Homo sapiens: one gene and its partners. The protein of the gene in region 2 purifies or fractionates together with the protein of the main gene of each other region. This does not show direct contact. Each region holds a gene or a part of one and is shown on either strand. Other genes may lie near its edges.

Region 1 (3,777 bases), on a different chromosome or scaffold from region 2:
GAAGCCAGAGCTCATGCTTTTACTCCCAGGTAGCAGCAGCTTTACAATTAAATTTTAATCCGACAGTGTTGTTAGACTCCTATCAAGAGTACAGCCACAGCTGTTCTTGGCAGGCAAATACATTGCTGGTTTTCCTTCAGTCACAGTGAGATAGAAAAATGTTCTCTGTCTAGGGTGTGGACGAAGGCACTTTACTAATCTTATGCATAATTCATCCTTGGTTGCTGGGGCACTCAAAGTTGAAACTTTGCCCTCTGATAAAATTCAGCTGGATGTTTTTTATTTATTAGACTCTGATCCCTTTAGGGGTTTAGCCCTTATTGCGAGCCCAGGGATTCTAATTTGGCTAAGCCCTAGCTGTGAAGACTTTTCTTACTAATTTGCCCTTGGTGAATTTTAGCTCTTGTAATACCACCTTTAAAAAACAAAAAACAAAAACTGCAGTAGAACATGCAGTTCAGAGAGTCCTGGATAACCTGAAAAGAGTCTTCTTTGAATGTTGGCTTATTGAATGGAAGGACTCCAATAGGGCCTGTCTTGATTTGTTTTCAAAGTTTAGATTTGTAAAGAGCCTCAGCAAATTAAAACATGGTTTTAATTGTCCTATAACATGCTAAAATATGGTAATGATTGTCCTATAACATATAACAGGTCTTTGCATTTCAAATTCATTGGGTACCTGTGAAGTATAAAATATAATCCCTGTTCATAAGTAACTCATAGTCTAGTGGTAGGGGGTTTGAGATGGGCATGAAGATGTATTAGTATAAGGTGGAAGCTATTGCCACAATAGATGAGTTCATCCTTGAATATTCATTTATTTGACTGGAAGGGAATGGTGAGTTATTTTCACACGGCTCCCGTAAGATATAGTGACCCAAAAGGTCAGTCTAGACTAATAGATTATGCTTCCTTTCAGAAGAATTTATTCGGTTAGGTCAAGCAAGAACATATAGAAAGAGATATCTTTATTCTTTTCCAAATATGTGATGTGGAGTACTTTCATCTTTATACTCAGCAGCTGGAATTCATCTTTTTGTAAGCAGTGTTATTTATTATAATGTTTATATGAATATAATTTATCAAAAAATGGAGAGCTCCACAATTCAAAATTTAAGAAATGTCTCACCTCAGATTCACAGAGTAATTGCCTTAGACAAAAGCTCTACACTCATACATTTTATATACCTCTTTTATATCCTCTCATTCCTAATAATGACAGATTAATAAGAACTAATAGCCATCCTGGTTTTCAGTATGAAACAATGTGATTTCATGTGAAGAAGAATAGAATAGTAAGAGTTAGGACCAAAATTACTTAGTTCTTTGGGCATGTGAGAGAATAGGAAAGAGCTACCCAGAATTTTCCAGAGCTCACTTGATAATGTCAAGAGCTGCAGCTGGCAGTCACTGATTCTGAAAATAGGCACACATCATGTTAATCAAAAAACTAAATAAAAGGATATTGGGATAAGGCACTAAAATAAAGTTCCTTTTGCCCTTTCTTTATAGCTGGGTTTTGCTGATCAATTCTGCATTTTTTGGCAATTCTACCTCTTTACAGGGAGAACCACCAGTATTATTTTCTCTTTAAGTAACTGAAAAAATATTTCCTATCTTTATTGAGCTGTCTCATTAAAGTAACAGACTAGCTGGATCACTGGGGATATGACTTTGGGATATATGTTTTAAAATAGGCACAGAGGCTGGGTGCGGTGGCTCACTCCTGTAATCCCAACACTTTGGGAGGCCGAGGTGGGTAGATCATCTGAGGTCAGGAGTTTGAGACCAGCCTGGCCAACATGGTGAAACCTTGTCTCTACTAAAAACACAAAAATTAGCCTGATGTGGTGGCAGGCGCCTGTAATCCCAGCTACTCAGGAGGCTGAGGCAGGAGAATTGCTTGAACCTGGGAGGCGAAGGTTGCAGTGAGCCAAGATCACGCCACTGCACTCCAGCCCTAGTGACAGAGCGAGAATCCATCTCAAAAAACAAACAAAAAGGCACAGAACCTCTCCTTGAGTTTATACAAATTAGGCATGTAATCAGTAAATATGGTAAAATATGGTAAAATGTAATCAGTAAATATGGTAAAATGGTAGAAGAGCAGGCCCAAGGCTAAATTCTAAACTACTCATGCAAATATTATAATAATACTAGAGAGTTGTAGAATGTACTGATTAAACTAGTGTTGCAGTAGAAGAAAGGAAGATAAACTATTTGAACAACAACTTGGAGGCAGAAAACTGGGGATTCGGCTTTGGAATTTACTTTATTGGTAATTATTACTTCTCTAGCTTGTCGCTCACTTCTCTGAGCTTGTCACACCTACTGGAATAAGCAGAAATTGTTATTCTTTGCCTAGGTTAACAAAATACACATCTCCAGATAGTAAGTTAGTTGCATGATGGCATCTTCTAATTCAGAGGTCTGATTTGTAGCATATTGGTAAGGAGGCACATTCATATTTCTGGGTGGTAGGGAGCCCACTTTCATCCATTCATCTGCATTCCTGTTCAAACTAGCAACTGTGTCTGCTAACATTAGGTTCCCAGAAAAAAGATGTAAGTAAACCCCAGTTCCACTGAGCTCCTGTGAAGGTACCACCTCCATAGAACTTGGTTGAAAATAATGAGCATAGTTACCTTTTTTTTTTTTTTTTTTTTTAACTTTTATCTTTTGGATGGCATTGAGAGTAACCTTCTGTTTTTTTGGCCTCAAGTTCCATATTGAATTTTTTAAAATTGCATTTTGAGCAATAACATTTCCCTGGTTGCTTAACCAGTTATACAAGTTGAGACTTCTGTCTCTATGCCTATCTTATAATAGCTTCTCTGGGAGAACAGATGAAAAATAAGCCAGTTAGATATTTTATGAGTATTGAAATCCTTTCCATTCAGAAATGTAAATAAAACAACCAGCATGAGCAATCAGCTTATGTCAGATTCCATGGGTTTGTATTACATAGGGAAATTACAGTGCAACCTGAAACATGCTTCTTAATGAATTCATAGTGCTGTCACAGTTGAATGTAAACCCTTGAGCTTTTCTTTTGTGAAGGGTTTCAGAAATCACCCTTTATAAACTACCTAGGGGAGGGAAGAGAACTAAGATGATACTAACAAATGCTATCACTGGTTTTGTGGCTGCCTCCCTTACAGCACCAAATTTTGCCAGTTAAGTAAAGCAGAAACCTAGAATATGGCACACGTTTTGGCTTATTCAGTGTACACACACACACAAACACACAAACACACACACACTCAGTGCCACACTGGGTCAGACCCATAGTTCAATACTCTGTTTCTGAAAGTGGCACCAGGGAACTGCTTTGGAAGAATAAGATTGCCCTTATGGTTTTTATCCTCAGAAGTTAGGGAAGTTTGGTTAAGAAGTATGACAAAAGCCCCATAAGTAGCGATTTTTACCTTTAGCAAATGCAGGAAAATAGACACCTAACTAGAGATCATGAAGTTAGAATTTGTCTCCTTCTTTGGCTGCTACTTCAGCCCCTGGTAGTAAATTAGAATAAAGTTCCTCATTTATTAGTGAGCTGGTTTTGCAGTCTCTAAAGCTCTTTTGCAGCTCTTCTATTCACTATGGCCTCAGATACGATAAATCTGCTAGCTGCAAAAATTCAATATACCAAGTAGAATATGTAGGACCAGTCAAGTTTTAAGTTTGGGAGTGAGGAAAAGCAGCATGTATTTTCTATTTTAAATTATTTTCTTTTCACATTCTAATTTCTTAAGGGTTTGGCTTGATTTATGCCAGGTT
Region 2 (4,484 bases):
CAGTAGCATCTATCAAGTGAACCCTGGAGGCTGGTCACATTCATAATCTTTTGTTTTTCTGGCTACATAGAGGTGATTTTGAACTACAAGATCATCTCAGCTATTCAGAGTTTAGATTTTATTTAGCCTTATTTGTTTTGCCTAGCATTTATGTATTTGAAAATATCTTGATTTTTAATCTTCTATCACCTTGGCCCTTACCTGAAGTGAACTTTGTTTGAACTCAATTGATTTCACCTCTCAATAAATATGAAATTAATCTGAAATGAATTGAATTGTTTGGCATATTTTACCTCTTCTATGTGCACTAATCTATTTCACACATTTTCAGTTTGTTTAGAGATACATGTTCCAATGTATCTGAGTAGAAACTAGTGAGATGGGAATGGATATAGCCATAATATTCCATCATTGAATTCCATGGCATTCACTCAAATGTAACTCACCTGTTTTAACAGTACCTTAATTTGGCCTGTATTTATTGGACTTGGTGTTCTTTTTGCTGTGAGAAGACGGTGAAGGTGATTCTTGAATGTTTGTTTTCTGTGTTGCATCATGTTTGTACAACACGGTAATATATTTGGACCTTGATTAAATAATGTAAGAGGGGAATTTGATCAAAAAATAAAATGCACAAGACTGTTAAAACAATGTCTAATTCTATCCATGCAAAAATGGAGTAGAATCCTAAAATGCTTATGACAACTACTTGATTGCTTCTAGTCCCTCTTTTAAATACTTTAATTTACTTAGATACATGTATCATACGTACTTCTTGGCCTCAGTTTTCCTCCTAATAGCCTAATTGTTCTTTTTACTGTGCAGGCATAACTATATAACAAAGTAGGTTTTTTTTTTCATGCCATTTATGAGTCATATAATTTAGATAATTTATTGTTTATTTTACCATTATTGTTGCTAACAAACTTCGTTGTTTTGCATTGTTTGTTGGGACAATTAAATAGTGTACCTCTTGGACTAATAGATTAAATAGTTCATCAGAGATAAATTGCACTGCTGAAGCATCAAAGGAGAAAGACTGAAGTGTAGAATCTGCACTTCAATCTTTCTCCTTAATTAGCACCACCAGGGAATTTGATTCAAGTTCTAGAGGGGAGTGAACCCAGGAATTGGCTTAAAAACAAAAACATACACACAAAAAAACCAACGCTCGCAAGCAATTATTTATGCATGCGGTCCACGCACTCAGTTTGAGAAACACTGACTCGACTTAAAAGTCTTTATAATGCTCAGATTTCTGAAATGCTATTGACCTGAAAACATCTCATGAAGTTATTAGTTTGAACGCGTGGTGGCGGTACAAGCTAAGAGAGTGAATGAAAGCTCTGCAGACTCGGTGGACTCCGTTTCATCCAGAAGCCAAGTAAAAATACAGACCACGTTTACAGCTAAAGCTGAGATAGATGTGTCCGGGAAGGCAGTCGTCGCCAGACAAGTTGTAAGAACGAATTTAAAAATCTCTGCAAAGACATCCGAGAGGGTCGACGGTAGATGTGGTGATTGGGAGCTGAAAAGGATTTTTCTTCCGTATTCAGACATAATAGACATGATGCAAACTAAAGTACAGAACAAGAAAAGGCAAGTGGCTTTCTTCATTTTATTGATGCTTTGGGGAGAGGTGGGTTCTGAATCGATTCAGTATTCCGTATTGGAGGAGACAGAAAGTGGCACGTTTGTGGCCAACTTGACAAAGGACCTGGGACTGAGGGTGGGGGAGCTGGCTTCGCGGGGCGCTCGGGTTGTTTTCAAAGGGAACAGACAACATTTGCAGTTTGATCCACAGACCCATGATTTACTGCTAAATGAAAAACTGGACCGGGAGGAGCTGTGTGGCTCCACTGAGCCGTGTGTGCTACCTTTCCAAGTGTTACTGGAAAACCCCTTGCAGTTTTTTCAGGCTTCCTTGCGAGTCAGAGATATAAATGACCACGCCCCGGAATTCCCTGCCAGAGAAATGCTCCTGAAAATATCAGAAATTACTATGCCAGGAAAGATATTTCCTTTGAAAATGGCACACGATTTAGACACCGGCAGCAACGGCCTTCAGAGGTACACAATCAGCTCCAACCCTCACTTCCACGTTCTCACCCGCAATCGCAGCGAAGGCAGGAAGTTCCCGGAGCTGGTGCTAGACAAACCGTTGGACCGCGAGGAGCAGCCCCAACTCAGGCTAACGCTGATCGCGCTGGATGGCGGGTCTCCGCCCCGGTCAGGGACCTCCGAGATTCAGATCCAGGTTTTGGACATCAATGACAACGTCCCCGAGTTTGCTCAGGAGCTCTATGAAGCACAAGTCCCTGAGAACAACCCCCTCGGCTCTCTGGTTATTACCGTCTCAGCCAGAGATTTAGATGCAGGATCGTTTGGGAAGGTATCTTACGCCCTGTTTCAAGTCGATGACGTCAACCAACCCTTCGAAATAAACGCAATCACAGGAGAAATTCGGCTGAGAAAGGCTTTGGATTTTGAGGAAATTCAGTCTTATGACGTGGATGTTGAGGCTACAGATGGTGGAGGCCTATCAGGAAAATGCTCTTTAGTCGTCAGGGTCCTGGACGTGAATGACAATGCCCCTGAACTCACCATGTCGTTCTTCATCAGCCTCATCCCAGAAAACTTACCAGAGATCACAGTGGCAGTTTTCAGTGTTTCAGATGCAGACTCTGGACATAACCAACAGGTTATTTGTTCAATAGAGAACAATCTCCCCTTTCTACTAAGACCTTCCGTGGAGAATTTCTACACCCTGGTAACAGAAGGCGCGCTGGACAGAGAGAGCAGAGCCGAGTACAACATCACTATCACGGTCACTGATTTGGGGACACCAAGGCTGAAAACCCAGCAGAGCATAACTGTGCAGGTCTCCGACGTCAATGACAACGCCCCCGCCTTCACCCAAACCTCCTACACCCTGTTCGTCCGCGAGAACAACAGCCCCGCCCTGCACATCGGCAGCGTCAGCGCCACAGACAGAGACTCAGGCATCAACGCCCAGGTCACCTACTCGCTGCTGCCGCCCCAGGACCCGCACCTGCCCCTCTCTTCCCTGGTCTCCATCAACGCGGACAACGGCCACCTGTTTGCCCTCAGGTCGCTGGACTACGAGGCCCTGCAGTCTTTCGAGTTCCGCGTGGGCGCCACAGACCGCGGCTCCCCGGCGTTGAGCAGCGAGGCGCTGGTGCGCTTGCTGGTGCTGGACGCCAACGACAACTCGCCCTTCGTGTTGTACCCGCTGCAGAACGGCTCCGCGCCCTGCACCGAGCTGGTGCCCCGGGCGGCCGAGCCGGGCTACCTGGTGACCAAGGTGGTGGCGGTGGACGGCGACTCGGGCCAGAACGCCTGGCTGTCGTACCAGCTGCTCAAGGCCACGGAGCTCGGTCTGTTCGGCGTGTGGGCGCACAATGGCGAGGTGCGCACCGCCAGGCTGCTGAGCGAGCGAGACGCAGCCAAGCACAGGCTGGTGGTGCTTGTCAAGGACAATGGCGAGCCTCCGCGCTCGGCCACCGCCACGCTGCACGTGCTCCTGGTGGACGGCTTCTCCCAGCCCTACCTGCCTCTCCCTGAGGCGGCCCCGGCCCAAGCCCAGGCCGACTCTCTCACCGTCTACCTGGTGGTGGCGTTGGCCTCGGTGTCGTCGCTCTTCCTCTTTTCGGTGCTCCTGTTCGTGGCGGTGCGGCTGTGCAGGAGGAGCAGGGCGGCCTCGGTGGGTCGCTACTCGGTGCCCGAGGGTCCCTTTCCAGGGCATCTGGTGGATGTGAGCGGCACCGGGACCCTATCCCAGAGCTACCAGTACAAGGTGTGTCTGACGGGAGGCTCAGAAACAAATGAGTTCAAGTTCCTGAAGCCGATTATGCCCAACTTCCCTCCTCAGGGCACTGAGAGAGAAATGGAAGAAACCCCCACCTCTCGGAATAGCTTCCCGTTCAGTTAAGTGTGGGATTATTTTACTAAATCTTACTTATGTTTGGAGATCTCTTTTAACTTAAAGTTACATGGTCTGTTTCTTGTTTATTTTACCTCTATTCTTTAGGTTGAAATTTTATATAAAGTAAGATACTGGTATCTTAGTATTTCCTGTTCATGCTTAGTAGTTTATTACTTCACTTGAGGGTACTTGACAATATGAACAAAAAGTAAATTTTTATTTGCATAATTTTAAGCTTTTGAAATTAAATTATCTATTCTTCCCCCCCCCAAAAAAAAGTATTGTAAATCCTTAAGTAAAATTGTATTTCTAGCTATTGGTAAGAGTTGTTTCACTATTGCTATGTAGGACTGTTTAAAATGTGAGTATCTGATATTATTTAATCCTCCAATGTCTCATTTTGCAGTAACTCCTACAGTGTGTAACACTAAAAATAAGAACTAATGATGGCTAAACACTAAAGTAGCCATTCATACTTATGCATATTTTAGTATCCCATAATAGTCAATCCAAAATTTTTGTGACTATAGACTTTACT
Region 3 (3,777 bases), on a different chromosome or scaffold from region 2:
CAAAGTTAAGATTTACCTGCAGTTTTAATGATGATTCTGCAGGTATTTTGTATGTTTGTATTTCTTTTCCTTCATTACTGTATAATTTCACTGCAAAATCTTTAAAAGACAATAAAACTCATTGTCTCCTGAAGAAAAGCTGCAGAAATAAATTACCTAATGTAGTTTTTCATGTTTGGACTTGATGTTGATTTTCTTGAGTCAGAAGCATGGACCATTCCTTGTCTTAACATCCTATATGACTTAACTGAGCTATGGGAGTGTGCTATCACTAGTCCAGAGGAAAGGTACCTTTGAGATGGTTTTGGCTGTGATGTAAAGTTTGTAAGGACTTTGAAAGAGTTTCCAGAGATAGAAGTTGTTATAATCACTACAAATAACTAGTTCTAGATTGGTGGCAAGATTTTGTCTTGAGGCTAACATCTAGATACTGAGAATAGCAAAAATGTGTGTGAGTTGTGAAAATATATTTTTAAAATATATAGTGAAAATACATGTGTATGTGTATATATTAAATGTATACTTTTAGTAGTCTTTTGAATTATAAAGCAGCCCATTATGACTGGCAAATAAGACCTTTTTTAAAAAAGCATTATATATCATGTAATATAATTTCATTGTGAAGTGGGTTTTTGGAAGGCATTTATTATAAATGAGAAGCTATAGTTTATGTATCTAGTAAATATAAATTCGAATAAGTTTTCAAGAATGTTTCAATTTATGACAATTTAAATTTCATTGTCACATGTTTTATTAATTGGCAATTAAATGGCAGGGTAACGTTTGACAGCCTTTATTAGGACTTTAAAAATTTTTTGCCAGTGTACTATAGTTTCATGCACAAATTTTTGTTTTAAGCTGTATTTGTGACATAGGTGCAAAACACAGTACAAAAGTATTTACAAAGCATATGAGAAAAGTGCATAGGACTAAAGACCACAAGAAAACAGATAAGAATCTAATAGTTTTCTAAGGGTAGCCAAATTGACTAGGAGTGTTATTTACTTTTTCTTAACCAAACTATTTTTAACCTACTTATTACTCGATAATGTTAAAATGTTTTTGAAAGTGATTTTCTTAAGAGTGAGATGTGTTAACCCTTTGTATGGGGTAGAGTGGGTACCTTTTAATTTAGGGCCTTGTAAATAGAATGTTATTTAATAAGTGCTTCACTAATGAACGTTTGTAGCCTGCTTTTACTAAAGGCTGTTGCCTGATGGAGCATTGGAGTTTTGTAGTTGGAAAAAGTGTGTCCTTTTTTCCTCTTGCTAATGACCATTTTCCTCCTCCTTCTAATTCTTACAGTGGACCCTCATAGACATCTGCCAACAAGATTGCTTTGGGAGTAGATGTAAACTCATCTAATTGTTACTATCCAGAGTAGCAATAAGCCAAATTACTCTTGGAGGAAAATAAAATCTTTGCTAGGTGCTTGATATTTTAGGTGTTCTCTCTCTTGCCTATATGTGACTCAAGCGCTCTGATTGGCCTTGCCAGACCAAGAGGCCCTTTTCCTACAGCTGAATTTTCCCCTACGGTCTCTTGTAAGCAGCATCTGGCATTGTTTCGGTGACTCTGTACTTCTCGGTTCTGGTTGTGCCCTAGCTGACAGTTGCTGCTCTCCAATTGCCTGTTGGTTGTCTTCCTCCCTGTGTGTGTCTAGCTGCTGGTGCACACTGCATGTGTCCAGGGCAGAATTATCTTGCGCCACCTCCAGTTTTCAGTTTTTTATTAATGCTATGATTATTCTGCCTGCCCCACTGGATTCAGTTTTGACCCTTCACCAAGTGGCATCAGTGCCTGTTACATCCTCTTTTGATCACTCTCCCACTGCCTTCACCATGGGGCACTGCAGCAGCCTCTCTCCTACCGCCTTTCGCCATTTCTGTTCAGTCCTGCATGCTCCCTCTGAATTTGTGGTCTTTGTTAATCATTCATCATTCATTTTGACACCTAATTGTGTACTGCCTTGTTAGCTACTTAAATGATTTCAGGGGTGTCATTCTTCACCTAGGCTGGAATTTCTGTAGGGCAGAACCTTTGTCAACATCTGTAGTACATAAATAGCAGGCATTCAGTTTTGATTGAAAGTTTGCCTAAACTTTCATTGTAATATAATTTCATTGTGAAGTGGGTTTTTGGAAGGCATTTAATTTATTATAAATGAGAAGCTATAGTTTATGTATCTAGTAAATATAAATTCGAATAAATTTTCAAGAGTGTTTCAACCTATGACAATTTAAATTTCATAGTCACATGTTCTATCAATTGGCAATTAAATGGCAGAGTAACGTTTGACAGCCTTTATTAGGACTTTTAAAATTTTTTGCCAGTGTACTATAGTTTCATGCACAAATTTTTGTTTTAAGCTGTATTTGTGACGTAGGTGCAAAACACAGTACAAAACTATTTACAAAGCATATGAAAAAAGTGCATAGGACTTTTTATACCTGAGAACCTGAGAGTCAGAAGTACAGGTAAAATTCAGTTCTGGTGCAGATGTCATGAGGAAGTCTGCTATAGTAGGACATTGAGTAACACCAGTTTTTTCTTCCCCACATGTTGCTTTTCCTTGTAACTAAAAGGAGTTGTATACACTTATCTAAACCATCACTTTTATAACTTTTTGATTTTAAGATTTTCAGATTCTCATAAAACCCTAATCTAGAGATCATGAAACTGAGGCTTAGAGAGGTTAAGTAATATACCCAGCGTGATAGGGCTGGTAAATAGTGGAGCCAGGATTCCGCCCTAAGACATCTGTCCCTTGAGCCAAACTATGTAACCCCAAATGAGCACTTCAGGAATTAGATTTTGTTATATTGTACCAACTGCAAAAAGAACAGACTTGACAGTTCATGCAAAACCCATGTATTAGTATTCAAGTAAAATGTACTTTTTTTTTTTTTCAATCAGCCACAAGCTTTCATATCACTTTCTGTTGACTTGTTAACAGTTTAAGTAATCACAGGCCATTCTGGATCATGAAGGTTCTTAAAAGGAAACCAGTGAGTGGATAATACAGGGAAATGAATATTTGGTATTCGAAGCTACTGTCTCTTTGTTCTTGATGACTTAGATACCTGGTTGTATTGCTAAGGTTAAGCAATATTGCCTTCTGTAGATACTGCTTAGCTCCAGATTGGTGTGATGAGTTAGTCTAGACTTGTGGAATATTCTCAGAAGCTGGCCCTGGACTAACAGGAGCTGGAGATAATGCAAGGGCTGGTAGTGGCATTTGCCTCGGCAGGCAGAAATCTCTCGCAGACTTCCATTAGAGGTCCAAGGGCTCCAGAAGAAGTTCAAAGGTGCTTTGTTCTTATTAGGGCATTTTGGAATTAGGTGGTCATTAGTTCTCATCTGTAGTTCCAAATCTGTTTTGTTGTTGTTGTTTTTTAATTCCCATGTGATTACTTTTAAAACCACAGATGGAGGGTTTCTAGAAAGCCTTTGCCATTTGCCTGATTGATTTTGTTGCATACAACTCTGCCGTTTTAGGGCAGAGGTTTGATGTTTAAGAGGATCTTTTAGATGGTCAGTCATGATAGAGTATGAAACCTACGTTTTTATTTATTTTCATTTATTTATTTTCTAGAAACTTGGTGAAAAAAACACATAACAAAATACTTAACCATTTTTATATGTACAGTTCAGTGGTGTTAAGTGTATTCACGTTGTTGTGTAGCAGATCTTCAGAACTTCTTCATGTAAAGCTGGAAGTCTATACCCATTAAACAACTTCCTATTTCTCTCCCTACCCTTAATCCCCACCCCCAG
Region 4 (3,777 bases), on a different chromosome or scaffold from region 2:
TTTTGTCTGTCTCCCCACTGGGCTATAATTGCTTCAACTTCTAAATATTTGTCTTCTTATTTTTGTTTAGAAGGGAAGGGAGTTGAGTGAGTGGGGAGCCCGTAGAGGGGCGGCGGGCCACGATTGTCTGCGGCGCGGCTGGGAGCATTGTGGCTGTGCTGAGGCCGCAGCTGCGGCTGCACCCCGAGGATTAACTCTTTTAACGGAAGCAGTAACGCATTCCTATTAAATTGGGCAGCAATCTCAAAAGTGATTCACTCACTCAAAAGACTGACTTTTTAAAGAATTCCTGTGCAGATATATTTTTGTGTGGTTGCAGGCAAGCACTGTGACTTTTTTCCTTTTAACACTGTAGCATCCTTTATTTTTTAAATGCTAGTTCAGAAATCTTAATTACCACATGATCAAATGTCTGGAAATCTACTTGCTACAAACTTACCGCGCAGATATTTCAGTCTGTACTCTGAACTTCTTTCCTGAGGTCATCATCTCCTTAGCACGTTGGAAGCGGCAGGGAACTGAGGTTGCCACGCTCTGAAGACAAAGTGACCGCACCCCTACCCTGTTCCATAGTCAGCTCCCGTCCCGGCCCCCTCCCTGCGTATCCGCACCTCTGTCCTGTTCCATAGTCAGCTCCCGTCCTGGCCCCCTCCCTGCGTATCCGCACCCCTACCCTGTTCTATAGTCAGCTCCTGTCCTGGCCCCCTCCCTGCATATCCACTGATTGCTTCAGATGTGAAGGGACAGCCAGGCCGGGACAAAAGGGATTCCCACCCAGGGTGCGCGCAGCTTCTGTGGCCGAGGTGGCTGCTGCTTACGGCCCGCCTTCCCTTCACCGCAGGCCTCTCTCCCTCCCTCCTTCCCTCCTTCCCTCCTTCCCTCTTGCGTTTTTCTTTAAAATGTAGTTTATTAGAAGCGCACTCTGTTTGAATTTGGCAGTGTGGAGTTGTGTATAGCATGGAACCTTTTCTTTATGCATCGATGGTCATGTGTCATGAAATGTTTTCTTGGGATGAGTCATCAAGACAATGCAATGACCATGAAAGTCTAATATCACATTATTGGCAGAGTGCCAGTCTTCCGAAGAGTCCATGGGGTCTAATTCCATGCGTTCTATCCTGGAGGAAGACGAGGAAGACGAGGAGCCACCAAGAGTCCTTTTATACCACGGTAAGAAATGATCAGGGGGCGCCGGCAGTCCTAACGGTGCGCTCAGAGGCAGCGGCGGCGGGGCTCCGAGACCGGGCCCCACATTCTCCATGAAAGGTCTCCTGCGAGTTCATTTCTCTCCCACTGAACCGAGACCTGGAAGGGACCTTCAGAAGTGTCACGTTTTCAGTCCTCTATCTTAAGAATAACCTACACAAAGGGACGAGAGACTCCTGGGAAGAGACGGCCCAGCCCTCCCTGTTAGAGCATTACTCCTGTCACTTACCTCAAGCCCTTGTCCTCCTGTCCCCTCGCGGGGAGTGAGGGATGGCCCAGTGAGCCGAGGGGCTGCGTCGCCATTGCTCGGGTGTGGCCACGTACTGTCTCGCGGCTTCCGTTGGTGATGGCGTTTGGGGGGCTGTCCAGGGAGGCAGGGCCTTCAGCCCAAGAGTGAACTGCTCCCGCGCCCCTCCTGTAAGTAGCTGCTTGCACTAGAGGAAAACCTGCCTTTAGGTGCCCCTGAGCATCTACGTGGAAGGGACTAGAAATGAGAGACCCAAAGATCTGAGCCAGCCGCGAACAGAAAGTCGGCTTCGCAAACCAAGTCACAAGAACCAGCCCCACTTGAGACTCGCCCGTGAACCATTCCTCTTAACCAAGTCTTGTTTTTCTTTTCTTTAACCTTCTAGTTTCAGAATAATTATAGATTCACAGGATGTTGCAAAAATAGTAAAGGGAGGTGAGGGGGCTTCTCACCCGGGCTTCCCCACTGGCAGCATCCGTAAGGCGCAGGATGTCCCCGGCCAGGAAGCTGGTGCGTGTGCAGCCTCGGGAGCGCCATTCCACGCACACTTGCGTGCCGGTGGCCTTGTTATGTCGTTCTTTTTTTGTCTACACTGTTTGAGTGCTTTTCCATCATTGAAAGGGCTTCATTACAGTCTCACATTTTCCCTTTTTTTTGCCTAATGCTAATGGTCAGACTTTTTAACAGTTTTCCACATGCTCTTCTGATCCTTTTCCTCTGGGGTGAGCAGTCACCACTCACCAAACCCTGCCCCACCCATTGGGCACCTGTCTGGATGGTCCCAGGACCGCAGGTGCTGTGGGGCACCCATTGGGGACTTCCAGGAAATCATTTCTGCAGGATCCGTTCGCACACACGAAGAGCACAGTGCCCTCGGGAAGGGCCCTTTCCGACCACGCTGCCCCACTGGGGTTGGGTCACCGGGACATACAGAGGCTGGTGCTGCCTGGCTTCTCCTGCCTGCGGTGGGAGCTGGGTTTTGCTCCCGTTTGGTTTTGTTTTCTACCTGTCAGGCTGGGCGTCTTTCTGAGGGTTCCCTGACCGGCCTCTGAATTGATTGTTTGTCCACGTGGGCCTGGAAGTTTCTCTTAAAGACTAAATGCCCCTCACTGGGGAAACGACGCTGTGCCATGTTCACAGCAGACACTCACCCCAGTGGGCCTCCCTTTTTCTCTGGTCACGTTGGTTACTTCATAGGCCTTTAGGTTTTGATCTGTGTTTATGGACCACGGCACTTCCTTCCTTCCACAGTGCGGTCAGACACAGGCTTTGTGTGTCTAACGACAGACTGTTTCCAGTAGTTTTTCTAATACTTTAGTTTTAAAATTTTAAATAATTCACTTGTTTTTTGGCATTGAAAATATTTCATTCATAAATAGTTTCTAGTTATGATTTAAATAATTTTCCCATTTTTGACTGTAGTTTCCCAGAATCCTCTTTAGAATCTCAGTCCTTGTGTTTGGGTCTTCTCCGCGTGCCATTACCTCACCTCTGTTTTGTGCCACACACTCTTTAAAAGTGTCTTCCCGCGGGGTTTAGAGTTAGGAAAGTCGCGCACACATAGGACAGAGCCCCAGCCGCCCCTCGTGGCACCCCTCCCATCCCAAGGGTGCGTTTGTCGCAGCTGGGAACCCAGTGCAGCACCCCACTCAGCTGCTGGTTTCACTGTCTCATCATTGGTGGTTAGACTCAAGTAGTGTGGGGTATGTGAATCTGCCTTTCAGATTCTCCTGATCTTTTAAGCGAATGACACAAAGTCAGGTTTTAACAATATCGTGCTAACTGTGTTTTCTCAGGCTGTTACACCTGGTGCTTGATATGGATTTGACTTGTCTATTCTTTTTTTTTTGTTTTTCTTTTTTCTTTAATTCTAGAACCACGTTCGTTTGAAGTAGGAATGCTAGTCTGGCATAAACATAAAAAATACCCCTTCTGGCCAGCAGTGGTAAGAACAGCTTCCTCCGTCTTCTCAGATGTAGTTACTTAAATTTCATGAATTTTTATTCCATCCATCTTTAGTTCTTGATAATTTGATCAGGATAAATGTTTTCATTGTTTTGTTTTTCCTGGGAAAAGTTGGTGGGTTTTTAGAAAAGACTTCAGGAGATGCCTGTACCTAAATTAAGGCACAATGGTGTTAAGTTGATAGGCCACATTTTCACCAAGCAGGCTTAGAAAGACCTACTCGAAAAAAATATTTGCGGCCGGGTGCAGTGGTTCATGCCTGTAATCCCAGCACTTTGGGAGGCCGAAGTGGGTGGATCACCTGAGGTCGGGAGTTCGAGACCAGCCTGGCCAACATGGTGAAACCCTGACTCTACTAA

The links.
Region 1: the proteins of PCDHB6 (region 2) and ST7L purify together in Homo sapiens (affinity purification with mass spectrometry; one large-scale study listed by BioGRID and IntAct). This does not show direct contact.
Region 3: the proteins of PCDHB6 (region 2) and TMEM131 purify together in Homo sapiens (affinity purification with mass spectrometry; one large-scale study listed by BioGRID and IntAct). This does not show direct contact.
Region 4: the proteins of PCDHB6 (region 2) and PWWP3A purify together in Homo sapiens (affinity purification with mass spectrometry; one large-scale study listed by BioGRID and IntAct). This does not show direct contact.

The regions. Positions count from the first base shown.
Region 1 is NC_000001.11:112,528,642-112,532,418, reverse strand, and holds part of ST7L (suppressor of tumorigenicity 7 protein-like), read left to right. Parts: intron 1-2,253; exon of another isoform or gene 2,254-3,777.
Region 2 is NC_000005.10:141,148,691-141,153,174, forward strand, and holds the start of PCDHB6 (protocadherin beta-6 isoform 1 precursor), read left to right. Parts: upstream 1-1,366; 5' UTR 1,367-1,567; coding exon 1,568-3,952; 3' UTR 3,953-4,484. UniProt on the Homo sapiens protein: Calcium-dependent cell-adhesion protein involved in cells self-recognition and non-self discrimination. Thereby, it is involved in the establishment and maintenance of specific neuronal connections in the brain.
Region 3 is NC_000002.12:97,989,449-97,993,225, reverse strand, and holds part of TMEM131 (transmembrane protein 131 precursor), read left to right. Parts: intron 1-3,777.
Region 4 is NC_000019.10:1,361,182-1,364,958, forward strand, and holds part of PWWP3A (PWWP domain-containing DNA repair factor 3A), read left to right. Parts: intron 1-1,068; coding exon 1,069-1,170; intron 1,171-3,327; coding exon 3,328-3,398; intron 3,399-3,777. UniProt on the Homo sapiens protein: Involved in the DNA damage response pathway by contributing to the maintenance of chromatin architecture.